2 linked regions of the Homo sapiens genome follow. The protein of the gene in region 2 interacts with the protein of the main gene of each other region in a pairwise test. Each region holds a gene or a part of one and is shown on either strand. Other genes may lie near its edges.

Region 1 (8,027 bases), on a different chromosome or scaffold from region 2:
AAAATCATGTACTACAAAGCAAATTTTGTAATTAAAAAGTGTTGAATAGCTCATGTCATTTATTGAATAGTGTACTGGAAATAAAAAGCAAAATGGTTGTATGGTAAAGTATGAGTTCTACTAAATGCCTATTGCTTCTGTACCACTGTAAAGCCCCCGAAAAAATGTAAGTTGAACTACTGTAAGTCAGAGACCATCTGTATTGACTGTTCTCAAAGTGTTCATTGCCAGACAATGCAGCTTTGGGGAGCTAGAGAAAAGTCATCAACATTTAAAAAAATTTACATTTTCCTTCAGTTCTCAAAGGTAGAAAGGACACTATTTAGTCCTGTGTATTCCCTCTAGAGAGGAGAGAAATAAGCAACAGAGAGGGGAAATGACACTGTGAGTGGCAGAGAAAATACTAGCACAAACGCCTCATTTGTATAATTTGACTACTGAACGGGAATGTGAATTCCTTTGTACCAATCTGAAGTGCAAGTACAGTAACTAGTAAAATAAACACACTTTAAAGTGTTCATGTTAATATGACTCTCTAGACTGTAGACTATCTGAGGACAGTGACCTTATCTGCATTATACAATGTTTACTTCCAGTTGCTACTTCAGTTACTGGCACATAATGGACGCTCAATAAATACATGTTGGAAGATTATTCTTTGAATGAATATAAAGAGTTTATTCGGTGCGTATTTGGGTATACAACAACAAATATTAAACAACTTTTTTAAACTTTTTGTGCACAGGACAGAAAACTGCCTGTACATGCTATGTCCACTTTTGGAACACAGATTTTTAACAATTATGAATGCACAAAATCTTACATATCATGCAACTCTATGCCAAGAACCCAACTTTCTTCCATGCAACAGATATGAAGATCTAAATGGAAACCTAGCTAAGTCTTAAACACTTTTCCAGTAGCAAGTATAATATATGTTGTTGAGGGAAAACCAGTCTTAACAATTCCTTGTACACAATATTCATGTGCCAAATACAATGACAGGAAGACTCATACATATACAGATAAGACATTTCTTATTTTAACAACACAAAAGACAACATCACAGTTCCACAGTTCCTGTCTTTACACAAGAAGCCACAACAATAGTTTAACATGATACACAAATGGAATTAAGAGAAATCTACACTTGAGGATAATTTTTTGAAGTTCTCTTTACTGACTGGGGTTGACAATACAACTCAATTTCTACGCACAAAGTACAGCACAATAACTTGACCAGAATACCACAAATCTAAAAAAAAAAAAAAAGAAAGAAAAACAATTGGTCAAACCACAAGAACACTGTTACCTTGAGCCTGAGAAGCCAATTCAGATTCAACCCTGAATTTGGTTGATTTGGATTAAGTGACGCAAAAAGTCAATAGAACCATTGAATTTCAGAAATCATAAAGTTGCACTATGCCAAAGAAAAGAGTACATGTGAATCAAGCGTAGATAGAAAACATCAAGCCAAGAAAACAACACAATTCACATAATTTTGTTTGCCCCGACAAAACATTTAAGCAGTTAATTTTGTTTTGTTTTGTTTTGTTTGTTTTTGAAGAACAATTGTGGTCTTTTACATTTTCTTGGTGGGAGAGCAAATTTTGATCAGCATTAGTGCTGTGAAATACTTTTGGATTATCATCCCCAAAGTATAGGTGAGATCATGAGAAAATTTGGCAGTCCTTCTCTCAGATTTAGTTCACTAAAATGCTTGGCATTCTTATGCACAAGCTCAATCTAAATAATGGGGCTTTAGTATGGATGATAAGAAGGTCTAATGGCAGATAGAATAGTGAACTCTGCCTGTTTGTTTGGTAAATGTCACTGACAAATTTGAACTTTTGGGTGAAGGACTGCTAGAAGAATTCAACAGCACCTGGAGGTAAGGTTCTGTTACAGAGCCCTTCTTTTGCCCTCACTGGCTACGTTGATTCATTGTGGCTCATGGATTTGCCTCCGTTCAGCACGCCAGAGACACTTCTGCTCTTGGTTGGGGTCCCGCTTCCAGATCGGGAGAACTCCGTGAGATCGTGCAGTGATGGCTCCTTGTACATGGCCACTGAAAAGCACACAAAGATGGTGTAAAAGGCCTTCAAATGGGCATACCAATTGTGAAAATTTCTAAGAATAGTTTGTAGGTGTTCTATTCCACACACCTAAATGATAAGTATGTGAGGTAATGCATATGTTAATTAGCTTGATTTAGCTATTCCACAATGTATACATATTTCAAAATACCTTGTTCATAATAAATATATACAATTTTTGTGTCAATTATAAATTAAATTCAGAAAAGGAAAAAGAGAAAAAAAATACATTAAAAAAATGGGCCTACCACACTGGTCCTCAACTTTTCTTTTGGTTACTAGGCTTCTGTGCCTTAAGCCAGACATGAAAAACACTGCTTTCAAGGACTCAGTAGAGAGTGGACAGGTTCAGATTAAGCAAAAATCTAGCCTTGGTGTAGTAGTGTGTAAAGAATTTTAATGCCTAACTTCAACCACATATGGTTATGTAAGAGAGGATTAATAAAAAATGCATTTAATAAACCTCTTAGAAGTTTAAATATGATCTATAGCATACTGTACAAGGCAAATATTAAAATTTAAAATATTTTAAAACACTGATTTCTATCATACTTTAAAATGAAACACTTCAAGAGTCTAAGTATTGGATAATTCTTGGTACAGTAAATGGTAAAATTTATTATTGTGCTATAAATAAACATAATAGCTTATAGTTATGGAACACATAACATTAGATACTACTCTAAGTTCTTTGCATGCATTATCCCATTTAGTCCCTATGAGAATCTTATAAGTACTCTTATCCATATTATACAGATGAACTTGAGGCATACACAGGTAAATAACCTGTTCAAGACCATCCAGTTAGCAAAAAGTGAAGTTGGGCCTTGAATTTAGGTAGTCTGGCTCCAAAAAATGTGCTGTAAAACACAGTGCTGTGCTTATTCGAATTGCACAGTGTCTGCCTCTACTCTAAACCCCTACTCTTACCTCAGGCTAGTAATCTCTTTGAAGTCTTCCTCTGCTTTGCCCGCATTTTCTGTCTCTTCTCTACCATATCTCACTATTTCTTACCTCCCTATCTTCCATAGCCTATTCTTGTCCCTCACCCTTTCTAATTTGCTATTAATCTGCTAATAATGATGGGAAAACTATAAGCAAAATTTGCTGAAATAATATGTTGGGCCCTTAGAGAGGACCCAAGGAGCTTTCTGGTAAGTGTTAAGTGTACACACATTTTTTTTTTCTTTTGTTTTTTGAAACGGAGTCTCACTCTGCCGCCCAGGCTGGAGTCCAGTGGCACGATCTCAGCTCGCTGTAAGCTCCGCCTCCCAGGTTCACGCCATTCTCCGGACCTCGTGATCCGCCCGCCTCGGCCTCCCCAAAGTGCTGGGATTACAGGCGTGAGCCACCGTGCCCGGCTGTGTATACACATTTTTAACACCTATGTTTCTGCCCAGGCAACATTTTAGCATAATTTGGGGATCTTGGCTGTCCTGAGTTAGCATGTAAGTTACTTCCACATAAGTAAAGTGTCACTATATGTACATGCACTATGGAAAAATTAAAATCAGGAGAGCAAATGTTTTTGAGTGTTACAAAATGTAAGTTTTTTAAATAAATGTCTTAATGTGGAACAACTGTTTCATTTTCAAAAGTATTATTAAGGACTGCTTTAAATTACTATTTCTAAATGTTCAACATCACTAATCATCAGGGAAATGCAAATTAAAACCACAATGAGATACCACCTTACTGCTGCAAGAATGGCTATAATTAAAATGTCAAAAAACAACAGATGTTGGCATGGATGTGGTGAAAGGGAACACTTTTACACTGCTGGCGAGAATGTAAATCAGTACAACCACTATGGAAAACAGTATGGAGAATCCTTAAAGAACTAAAAGTAGCATTGGATCCAGCAATCTCACTCCTGGCTAGCTACTGAAAGGAAAATAAGTCATCATATGAAAAACACAACTGCACAGGTATGTTTATAGCAGCGCAATTCACAATGGCCAAAATATGGAACCAACTTAAGTGCCCATCAATCAACGAGTGGATAAAAAAATGTGGTATATATATACACCATGGAATACTACTCAGCCATAAAAAGAAATGATATGATATCTTTTGCAGCAACTTGGATGGAGCTGGACGCCATTATTCGAAGTGAGGTAACTCAGGAATGGAAAGCCAAATATTGTATGTTCTCACTTAAGTGGGAGCTAAGCTATGAAGACATAAAGCATAAGCATGATATAATGGACTTTGGGAACTTGGTTGGGGGGAAGGTTGAGAGTGGGGTGAGGGATAAAACACTACATACTGGGTACAGTGTATACTGCTTGGGTGATGAGTGCACCAAAATTTCAGAAATCACCACTAAATAGCTTGTCTATGTAACCAAAAACCACCTGTACCCCCAAAACTATTGAAATTTAATAAATAAATAAGTATATTTAGTAGCATAATCCATAGTTCCCACAATATCAAATGTACCTTTCAGTGGTTTAGGCAGAAAATGAGCTGCAGGCTTGTTCTTCTTCACATGGTTGCCTTTCATGATCTCTCCTTCTTTGTTCAGACCCAGATACCACCCTCGGCCTGACTGCTGCTGACGGTATATCATTGATGAATATGTCACATAATAATTTTCAAACACTGATTCTTTGAATTTGCACTCAGGTGTGAAAAGTTCCTGCAACAAAAGTAAATAAACAAAAGTTCAGTGTTTATAGCTATGAATTTCCTGTAGAATCATGTGGTATTGCCTTTTAGGAGATTAAGACATACTTTGTAAAAGCTCGTGTGACTGGTGCTCTATTTTAATAGCATAAACTATCATCATTGGAAACCATCAGACTACATATAACATTTCACATGATGCTTTAGAAAAAGTCATAAGTGAAAGTGCTATTGATCAATGATTAGCTCTCTTTGTAATAGGTAATGGGAACATTAGAACAAGCCACATAAGTGAAATATATTGGACAACTACAAGAGCCAAGGATTGAAAAGACAAGCATAAAACTGACACATGGAGCTTTGTTCCCTTCAGGGTTCAATATGAGAAAATAAACATTCGGTCCTTGTACTTAATTTTCATGGATTCTTGAGTTATTATACACTATGGTTGTCAATTGCCTCAGGCTGAAATCTGTGTTACAATGCTTTCTGCCTATATTTCTAAAAGAATGCTACAAAGAAAGCCTACCTTTTACTTTTAGGTAAACCAAATTGATTTTTTTTGGATCATTGGACCTTGACTTGAGACAGAAAGAAAAATTCCCCCCTCACCCCATCCTTGCCTTACAGTAACATTTACATGCAAATCAATACAAAAGCAAGGAATTTACAGCAATTTTACTAGCAGACACGATAGAGCAGCCCAGTGGACTTTGAACTCAGGAATATGGTTTTCTGTCATGCATTTGGCCATTTTTACTTTAGACTGGATTTTTCAAATGAAGGGCTCCTGCCCTCAATAGACCATTTCAAGGAAACAAACAAACAAACAAAAAAACCAACAACAACAAAAAACCTTTTGTGTGTTTGAGTGTACACGTGTCTATGTGTACAATAAACAGCCATTAAAAATGATAATTTCTAAGCTAAATGAAATGAATAGTAGATTTGAATGTATAAGTAATCCATAGAGTAGCAAAGGGCCTACTTGGAGTGGAAGATTATTAGGAAAATGCTAAGTGAGCTACATGTCATAGAGGCACCAATTAAACTATCAGATTTTTGCTAATTTGCTGAGATGTTATCAGGAAAAACACTTGGTACTATCACCAAAAACATGTATACAAACAAATATTGCAAGCTTTCTGGGGCACTAGTCTTTTAAAAACAATGTCTCCATGGTTCTACCTTCCTTTATTTTTCATATTGGATACCATTTTAAGCAATACACACTAGCTGAGCAGCAACATCTGAAGCCCTCTCAGTCACTTCAGCAAAGAGGGATATATTCCTCAGGCAAGGCAGCTTTTCTCTGAAATTTAAGCACTCAAGCAATTTCCTTTCCTTTTTTCTGGGATTCTACAAACAGTGTTTCACACAGTAATCTGCCTAATCTCCCCCCATCTTCCCAATCTGGCTCCCAGAATGCACGAACTGAAGTATCTTTTGGGGTTATTTCAGCCTAGGGGCACACTCGATAGATGTTCAGAGGATTCACACAAATTCAACCTACTCAAGAAGCAATGTACTTCTAAGGCAACTGTCACATGTTAGGAACCAAAATGTTCTATTTATGGGCTGTGAAAACTCCTCTTTGTAGGATTTCTCAACATAGAGAAAGCCAAGAAAGTACCAAGAAATTTGACTAGAAGTCTCCACATTTCCTTTAGTGATGAGGACAAGTACATAGAACGTTGCTGAAATTCTTTGGGAATTAAATCACTGTACGGAAAAAAGTCATCATTGGAGAATGGATTTTCCTTTCATAAAGAATCAAACCATTTTGAAAATATATCTGGTGAAAAATGCATATGATCAAGGCAAATGATACCAAATAGCCACATAAACAATGTATGGCTGACTCCAGAATGGTGAGATGGGATCATTGCATATTCTAAGTCAGGTCCCAAAAATGGGCTGCATTTAATGTCTTGTGTGATAGCAGCATTCATACATTCATTTAATACACATTTTCTAAGGATCCATTATGTAGTTGATCGGTGCTAAATATTCATAGGTAAGTAATATGTGGCTTCAGACAGCTTATCATATATTTGTAGGTATCAAGCATGTACACAAATGTCATAGATACAATGTGTGCTACCATAAGGAAAGAAAGGGAGGCTTACAGGAGGTGCTGTATGAAAACAGAAAAAGCCAGACTTAATTCTGACTGAGGGACTAGGGAGGGATTCACAGAGAGGGTATCATTTTAGCCGAGCTTTTCAATACAGAAAACAGGGAAGAATAATATTTGAAGCACAGGGCCACACTTCCTCTACTTTTCCTGTGTTCCCTGTCTTAGTAACTGGAATCCACCATCCTGGCAGTTGCTCACTTAACACTTCAGAGGGCCTTTCATTTCATTCCTGTGCCCTCTAGTCCGTGATCCATGACCTTCACCTTCCATTCCCAATGCCACTGCTCTACTTTGCGCCTTATTACCTCTTCACTGGACTGCTGTCATAACATCCTAACTGGTTTCTTCTCTTCAGCTGGCAGGTTTGCTTTCCTAAAGCAAAGTTCCCTTCCTTGGGAAATTTTGATGATTTCACCTTGCCTATAGTAAAAACAACAAACAACTTGATGTAACATTTAAAAATTCTCCACAATTCAGTCACTACCATGCCTTCCAGCGTCATCTTCCAGTGTCATTCACCACAGAACCATGTGTGCCTTTGCGCTTTACTGATGCCATTCATTTCCTTTGCTTAGAATGTCATTCCTTTGTTTCTCTACCTACTGGCTTTCCTCTAACCCTCCAAGGCCTAGCTCAAATATGACTGTTTCCAGAATCACATATAATCTCTCCCAATCAGAACTGATTACACCTGTTATCTGTGCTCCCATAAACTCTATCTACATCTCTAGCATGGCCCTGTGACTCATACAACTGTATGATTAGCTCCAGATGGTAGGGAACTTGTCTTATTTTTTCCCCAATCTACCTTCCCCCAACAAAAATGACACGTTAGCACATGGCAGACCGCTTGATTATTGTTTATGTGATTTGAATTTCAGAGATTCAGATTTAAATATTGGAAATTCTAGGACTCAGAATTATCAACTAGTAAAAAGTCTGCAGGGATTTTCCTTAATACCATATCATGAAATCAGCTGTATGTAAAATGAGGCTGTCACTGCATGGACAGATTCTGCAAGTGTAATTTAGTATCTGGCACCTATAACGTGGCACCTATAACATCAGGAGAAAATCTTGGCAATTGTTACAACTATTGAAAAATGGCAAGGAAGGACTCAATGAACTGAATGCTCTGTCACATCCTGGCAATTTCTTAGTCA
Region 2 (8,027 bases):
TTCCCTTTTGTTGATACCTAAGAGATATTAATTAGATTCCAGTACCTCAAAAAAAAAAACAAACCCAAATAAACAAAAAAACCCAGGTCTACATTATTTACATACAGTATGGGAAAAAAAGCTGCTTTTTGGCTAACTTAGATTGCGGTTACCTGCAGTATTTACACTGTAAATGTTAAGGGGAAGAAGCACTACTAACAAATACCATTTAAAAAAAATATATTGTGCCTGGAATTTTATTCTTAAATTAGTTGTATATCCTAATAAGTGTCTGTTGAATAGAATTTGACTTCTAATAAATCTACTGAAAGTGTGAAACAGAGTACCACTATGCTTCTTTATATTGCTAATCTAGATCCTGTTAGGTCCAATATTGTAGTTAACTATAAGCACTGAACCTTAAATGAAACAATGGCAACATGTGTGTAGATGAAATTTTATTCAGTATTGTAAAATATAATGCCTTGATGTTTACTCACAATTATGAGACTATCCTATTCTTTTAATCCTTTAAGAAGTCTCATATGATAGGTCCCTAAACAGTGAAACCTTCCAGTAACTTACCAGAAAAAAGTTTAATTATGTTATTCTGTTCTTAGATGTTTCTAATATTTAAAAGCATATCTAAACCCTTGGCAAAAACAAACACAATCAATTCAGTGTAACAGACTGAGCTTTAAACTGTACTTTAATTTTCAATAACTGTAACCTACTGGTTAATTGAACCAAACGTAGAGTATTTAAATGACTCACTATGAAGTGTGTCAAATCAATGATAGAATGCATAGAAAAGTGGAGATAAGTTTGGGGGAAGGTGCAAGGTGGGTTAATGTGAAAAACGGTAAATGCCAGTTTTAATAACAAAAATGGTACTAAACGCAGATGAACATTAAATTAATACAGTATAAAAGAGAACAGCTTAAATAAACTGGTATTCACATATTACAATAGCAAAGTTATGACAGAATGAACTGAAGACACGAACAGTTTTGAAAATTCTCTTTTCAGCCTACTTCCAAATAGAAATAGTCAGGCTTTTTTCCTGTACATAGTTTGATGCTTTGTCTATACCATATATAGTAGAAAAATAAATTCTTTAGCAACCTAGAAACAGTTTATAAAACTCTTAAAGTTTAATTTTCTTTGCCAGACATGCCAATAGTTAAACTGACAACTATAAATTAAAGCTATATAGACAATAGGTATAAGTAATATAGAACAGGTTAAGAATACTACATTTACCGGATTTTTTTTTAAAAATTACTGTACTTTCTTAATTCCTGTGTGCTTTGCAATAGGAATAATAGGGACTTTGTTTTCTTAGAAAAGATAACATGTAAGAGTATAACACAAATAAGATAATTTATAATATACATGTACTTCAACAGCAGCCTGGTTCATGCCAACATCTTGGTTCTGAAGTTAAAATTGGAAGTACAATACCTAGAACTTAACAGTTGGGAGAGACAATATTTATTTTAGGAAAAAACAGAGCAAATCAAACTCTTAGGAGCCTTGAATCTGAAAATCATCTATTTACTATAATACACATAAGATAATCTTAAATTGTAGTATGAATTAAGATAACATTGACCAAATAATTTTTTTCTTTACTACACAAAATATAACCTAGTGAAATTTACCTGTGCCACCTATTCTGAAAATTTTATCCATAATTTAGTGTTCTGGTTTTATCTTCACTAACAAAATGTTTACCCCCAAAAGCAGCAGTCACTTATAGTAATTCTGGTACCAACATCAAAGGAAAAAATTGGCTTAAAAATGGTGCAAAAGCCATTTTGGATTTTAGTACAACACATCACAGAAAAGAATATGAATACAAATTTGTAATATAAACACTCCAAAGAGTCTGTCAGTACCCAAAGTATTTTTATTGCTATATTAGCAATGGGTTTTTTGGATATTTTTTAAGGGCCACATAAAAATAGATTCAAGGAACAAATTAAATTGAAGTCCTAGATTTAAATGTTTGGTTTAAAGAATTTTCTACAACAAATTTCATGTTTATGTATGAAAAGTTATATAACCTTATATGAAAATGTCATGGAAGTATTTTCTACACTATACTAAATGTGTTCCCCAAGAGGGAAAAAATTAAAATATCTAAAATATATTAGATTAAGATTACAAGACCATCATAGATCTTTTGAACATGCATCTGTTTACAGAATTAACAGTATACAAAATTTTTATTTCATTATGGACCATAAAGAAATGAGTTGGTGACAACTATCCTTTGCACAACATTATCAACTCACTTTAGCCACAAGCATGTCCTTGGTATGTGTGTAAAAGAAATAGGTTCATTTATCCCTCATCAAATCATCCACGGGTTTACTTGGAAGTAAAGATGAAGGTACAGAAATGTGAAATATGTCAAGTGTATTTTTTCTTTCTTTCAAACAACATCCCAAGCATGGCCTCAGTAGCCTGAAATTATAAAATACTTAACTGGGCTTTTAGTTATCTACACCGACTGCCAGAATGTAAATTAAGTTGCCCAAATTAGCACATCAAATAACAAAATCAGCCAGAAAGCAGGCTGAAAAGCATTAAATGTTTCATATAGGTGAGTTTTTAAATCATTTAATTTCTATAGAAAAATTTTATTCACAATATAAGGTGACAGAAATTGCCACAGGAATGATATACTGATTGCAATAAGGTTGCATGCAGCAGCAGCTTTGTACTTTATAGCTATTTTTGTTTATAAAAATTAAACCTCTCCAGTCATGCTTATCACATGGTCTTAGATTTGTAATGTAAGTGAATAAGGAATACCATCTAGTTCAAAGAGAAAATGTAATTTTGAATGTGAATTATCTGTATGAAACATGAAGTATACTACTGAACCCTGAAACATGCATGTCTAGATTTGCTTTTTGTCCAAATCCAGCCTGTTTGCAATCACTTCCTACTCATATAATACCAAGAGGATCCGTTTGTAATTGTGGTTGTATCAGCTGAGGTTGCAATGGTGGCGGCAACTGAAGTGGCACCATTGGTTCCACCAACTGTCCTGGGTTTGAAGGTGGTGGAGGAGCCACAATGTTTGTCGTTTCTACAATTTCTCCATTGTAAAAGAAAAACTGACACTGCTGAATGAATGTTTCAACAACAGATTGATGAATCTTAGTAGTAGACAGAAACTCTCGATTTTCAAAATCAGGTCTCATCAAGGTTGGCCAAAAACAGATGGATAAGTTGTCTGCTGTCATTAGGTTGATTTTATGTTGCTGACTAACCCTGAAATTATGAAAGGAAAAAACATTTAGAAATCAAAACTCATTACAATCACAGAATTCCAGAGCTAGAAATGATCTCAGATTTAATGTTACCTTTTATCCTACTTCAAACCTGGGGTTTAAAAATTTGCATAAAGAAGCATCTTTAATTCGTATGTAAAAAACTTTTCCTGGGCCAGGTGCAGTGGCTCACGCCTGTAATCGCAGCACTTTGGGAGGCTGAGGCAGGCGGATCACCTGAGGTTGGGAGTTCGACACCAGCAGGACCAACATGGAGAAACCCCATCTCTACTAAAAATACAAAATTAGCCAGGCGTAGTGACAAAGCCTGTAATTCCAGCTACTTGGGAGGCTGAGGCAGGAGAATCGCTTGAACCTGGGAGGTGGGGGTTGTGGTGAGCCGAGATCGCGCCATTGCACTCCAGCCTGGGCAACAAGAGTGAAGTGAAATTCCGTCTCAAAAACAACAACAATAACAACAAAAAACCTTTCCTGATGTGACAAATTGTATTGAGTTTCTGGCAACAGAAACAACAAATTCTAATTGTATATGTAACTTCTTTGACTACTGTGAGAGATGAAAAACCAGAGTATGCTCTCTCAACTAGCTTTGGAAAAATTACTACCATAGGTGTTTGACACTAATATCAGGCTAATTTTCCCTTCCTTCCTCTGTTCCTCTCTTTTTTTTTCCTCTCTCTTTCTTTCTCTCTCCTTTCTTCCTTTTTTTTTTTGAGAATCAAGTCTCACTATGTTGCTCAGACTGGTCTCAAACTCCTGGCCTCCAGCTCCCCAAAGTGTTGAGCCACCGCATCTGGCTGAGAATTTTTAACTTTCAGAAAACCTGGTTGCAGCAGGTGCGGTAGATCACGCCTGTAACCCCAGCTCTTTGGGAGGCCGAGGTAGGCGGATCACAAGGTCAAGAGATCAAGACTATCTTGGCCAACATGATGAAACCCTGTCTCTACTAAAAATACTAAATTTAGCTGGGTGTGGTGGTGTACATCTGTAATCCCAGCTACTCGGGAGGCTGAGGCAAGAGAACTGCTTGAACCCAGGAGGCGGAGGTTGCAGTGAGCTGAGATCATGCCACTGAACTCCAGCCTGGCGACAGAGCAAGACTCCATCTCAAAAAAAAAAAAAAAACCTGGCTGCTAGCATTCCATAAAACAATCTTTTTTTTTTTTTTTTTTTTTTTTTTTTTTTTTTTTTTTTGAGACAGAGTCTTGCTCTGTTGGCCAGACTGAAGTGCAATGGCATGATCTCAGCTCATTGCAACCTCCGCCTCCCGGGCTCAAGCAATTCTCCCGCCCCAAGCCTCCTGAGTAGCTAGGATTACAGATGCTCACACCACGCCCAGTTAATTTTTGTATTTTTAGTGGAGATGGGGTTTCACCATGTTTCCATGGTATTTTCTCAGGGAAAGGTTATAAGAAATGTTAATACAATTTTATACCACATTGCTAGTAAAAAGTAAGCTTTAAACATTGGTGAATCCTCTTTTAGGAGGTACCAGCTGAAATGTACTTGGTTTGGGTGTTGATACTATTAGTTTAAAAAAAAAAAAAAACAAAAAAAACCATACAGTTCATTAAAATGCCAGTAGAAAATATTATGAGGAGACTTTTCAAAAAATTAGTACATATACTAAAATAGTTCCATTCAGTCCTCAGAACAACTTTGTGAAGTGTTGTTATTTTCATGTTTATAGTTGAGACAATCAAGACTTAGGAAGAATAAGTCATTTACCCAAGGTCACAGAACTAGTAATTTTTCAAACCAAACCCTGTTCCAACTCCAAATAGGTCAATCTGGTTAGTTATCTGAGTGTCATTTCATATCTAAAATTCTAAGATTTTACAGAGAATGTGGTAAAAAGGAAAATATACTTACCACACTTACTATTTATATAATAATTACATTACAAAACTAATCATATATCTTTTTAGATATAAATTAGAAAAACAAAATTCAACTATATGTTTAGTCTGAGTCCCCTTTTCTATCTGATAATTATCCAATTTATAAAATTTACATGTTTGAAATGTGTAGTGCATTTTATTTGCCAAAAAACCCTAAAAAAATAAAAATACCTGTTTAGATGTGTTATCACGTATCTGAATACATCATAGTTTACAGGATGAAATTTCTTAACAATTTCTTTCAAGGCATGAAGACGTTCTGTTTTATCCGGGATTTCTGTAAAATTAAAACAGTGAAGAATCTGTGTAAAACTTACACATTTAAAAATATTTGATAAAGCTTCCTGCTATATTTACTATAACAGTCAAGAATGTGTTTAAAGCATATTAGGATAGGTAAACAAAATCAAAGAAAATGTTCTAAAGCAACAGTCCCCAGCCTTTTTGGCACCAGGGACCAGTTTTGTGGAAGACAGTTTTTCCACAGATGGGTGGGGGGATGGTTTCAGGATGATTCAAGTGCATTACATTTATCATTAGATTCTCATAAGACGTGCACAACCTAGATCCCCTGCATGCGTGGTTCACAATAGGGTTCCCACTCCTAGGAGAATCTAATGCCGCACCTAATCTGACAGAAGGTGGAGCCCGGTTTCCCTTATCCAACTCCTCACCTTCTGCTGTGCAGCCTGGTTCCTAACAAGCCAGGCTGTGTGGCCTAGGGGTTGGAGAGCCCTGTTCAAAAGAACCTGCTAAATTATGTAAATTAAGAAATCACTTCAACTAACATTATCTATTTCTATTAATGTCATCATTTATTACTATAGCCTTTTTATAAGGAAAGCTAATCACTGAAGACCAAAGTGACCCAGCATTGACAAAATGGGAAATGGTACGTTAGCAATTTACGTAACTAGATACTGATTTATAATTAACTAATTACTTATAAATATGTTAGGCTCTTAACATTTATGCTACAGAGTAACTATTTTAGGCTTTGTGGGCACACTTACTCAACCCTGTGTTGTAGCACAAAAGCAGTAACAGACAACATGTAACAAACGGGAGTGGCTATACTCCAATAAAACTTCTGAAATTTGAATTTCATGTAATTTTAATGTGTCATGAAATTTTCTTTTCTCTTGGTGTAAAAACGACTCTCAGCTTAAAAGTCTGCCAAAAACTGGCGATAGCCTAAATATGGCCCTCGGGCTATAGATTCGCCTATACTACAATTACTTGTAATCCATTTTGCTTATCAAAGATTTTCCTTTACAGGCAGTTTAAGTATTTAACTTACTCTCCAAATCTATGCAATTATGAAACAGAGTAACTAAAATGTGGCCCTGAAATAAATGAGATAGAGGGTGCTTTCCACCTCTTCCTTATTTTGGAGACCAGTGTGCACACCACATCATTATGGTAGCATAACCAATTACTAACAACATTTCATTTGTTACACATTACTTCTAAATCAGTCCTCAAAAATTTCCTAAGTAGGAATGTTCTGAGGTTCCTATTAATGGTCAATAGATAAGAACATCTAAGCTATCAATTAAGCCATTTTCCCACTTTACCTGAGAGTACGTATATATAAGGCAACTATACCTTGTGACAATATACAGAATTAAAAAAAAGAATCACTGAGAACTTAGAACAATACGAAGTAGTCTCATCTAAAATAACCTGAAGACTTGCAACCAAAAGGAAATAGTAGAGAGAAGTATTTAGCAACTGTGCTAATTTTTTGTCACTGAGAAATCATGTGGATGAAACTGATGCCCAAACAGACTTTAGTTCTCATTTTCCAGATAAATGAATATCTGTTTAGTGGAAACATCTGAATGAAAGATGCCAAAGTAGGAATAAATACTAAATAAATATCATGTTCTTTCCCAAAATGACTTACAACACATGGTCTGCTATGGTTTGAATGTTTCCCCCAAAGTTCTTGTGTGGGAAACTTAATCCCCAAGGCAACAGTGTTGAGAGGTGGAATCTTTAAGAGGTGACTATATCATGAGGGTTTTGTCCTCATGAACAGATTAACGCTGTTATCTCTGAAGTGAGTTAGCTATTTTGGGAATGAGTTCCTGATAAAAGAGTAAGTTCAGCCCCCTTCTTGTCTCTTACTCTCTGAGTGTGCTCTCTTGCCCTTCCACCTTCGGTCATGGAATGACTTTGCAAAAAGGCCCTCACCTGATGAGGCCTCCTTGACCCTGAACTTACCAGCCTCTAGAACTGTAAGAAATAAATTACTTTATAAATTATGCAGTCTGTAGTATTCTGTTACAGCAACATAAAACAGGTAAGACAAAGCCAAAGTAAATTTCTTTGACTTACAATTTGAAGAATTTATTTAATTTTCTTACAATGCCCTTAAGTTTGAATTAAAAACACAAACCTCAAACTTCTAGTACAATGATCTTCTAATTTCTAGGAGCATTTAAGTCACCTAGGGGGCTAGCTAAAACAGAATATTCCTGGAGGCCATCTCCAGGGATTCTGATTTTAATTTAGAGGAAAATGCCTTTAAGAAATAGAGTTCTAGTTAAGTTAATTTTTATTAGCTACATATTCTAGTACATGATGATTTTAACACTTAGCAATCAATATCCAAAAACTGCCATTATCATCCCTCTCATAAAAAGGAGGTTTATACTTACTTGCTGCTTCCAATAGTTCTGGATGAAGAGAATATGGAATTAAAGGATCTGGCAGATCTGCAAAGAAAGCTTTAAGGGCTCCAGCTACAGCATTTACTGTTACTTCCATTGACACTAGATTGATATTATGATCTACAAGACAAAAATTAACATTTTAAATTATATAATAAAAC

What was found.
Region 1: the proteins of ARHGAP5 (region 2) and FGF13 interact in a two-hybrid assay, tested with the Homo sapiens proteins (one study listed by BioGRID).

The regions. Positions count from the first base shown.
Region 1 is NC_000023.11:138,630,919-138,638,945, forward strand, and holds part of FGF13 (fibroblast growth factor 13), read right to left. Parts: intron 4,738-8,027; coding exon 4,539-4,737; intron 2,069-4,538; coding exon 1,932-2,068; 3' UTR 1-1,931. UniProt on the Homo sapiens protein: Microtubule-binding protein which directly binds tubulin and is involved in both polymerization and stabilization of microtubules.
Region 2 is NC_000014.9:32,149,861-32,157,887, reverse strand, and holds part of ARHGAP5 (rho GTPase-activating protein 5), read right to left. Parts: intron 7,987-8,027; coding exon 7,855-7,986; intron 5,466-7,854; coding exon 5,360-5,465; intron 3,268-5,359; coding exon 2,940-3,267; 3' UTR 1-2,939. UniProt on the Homo sapiens protein: GTPase-activating protein for Rho family members.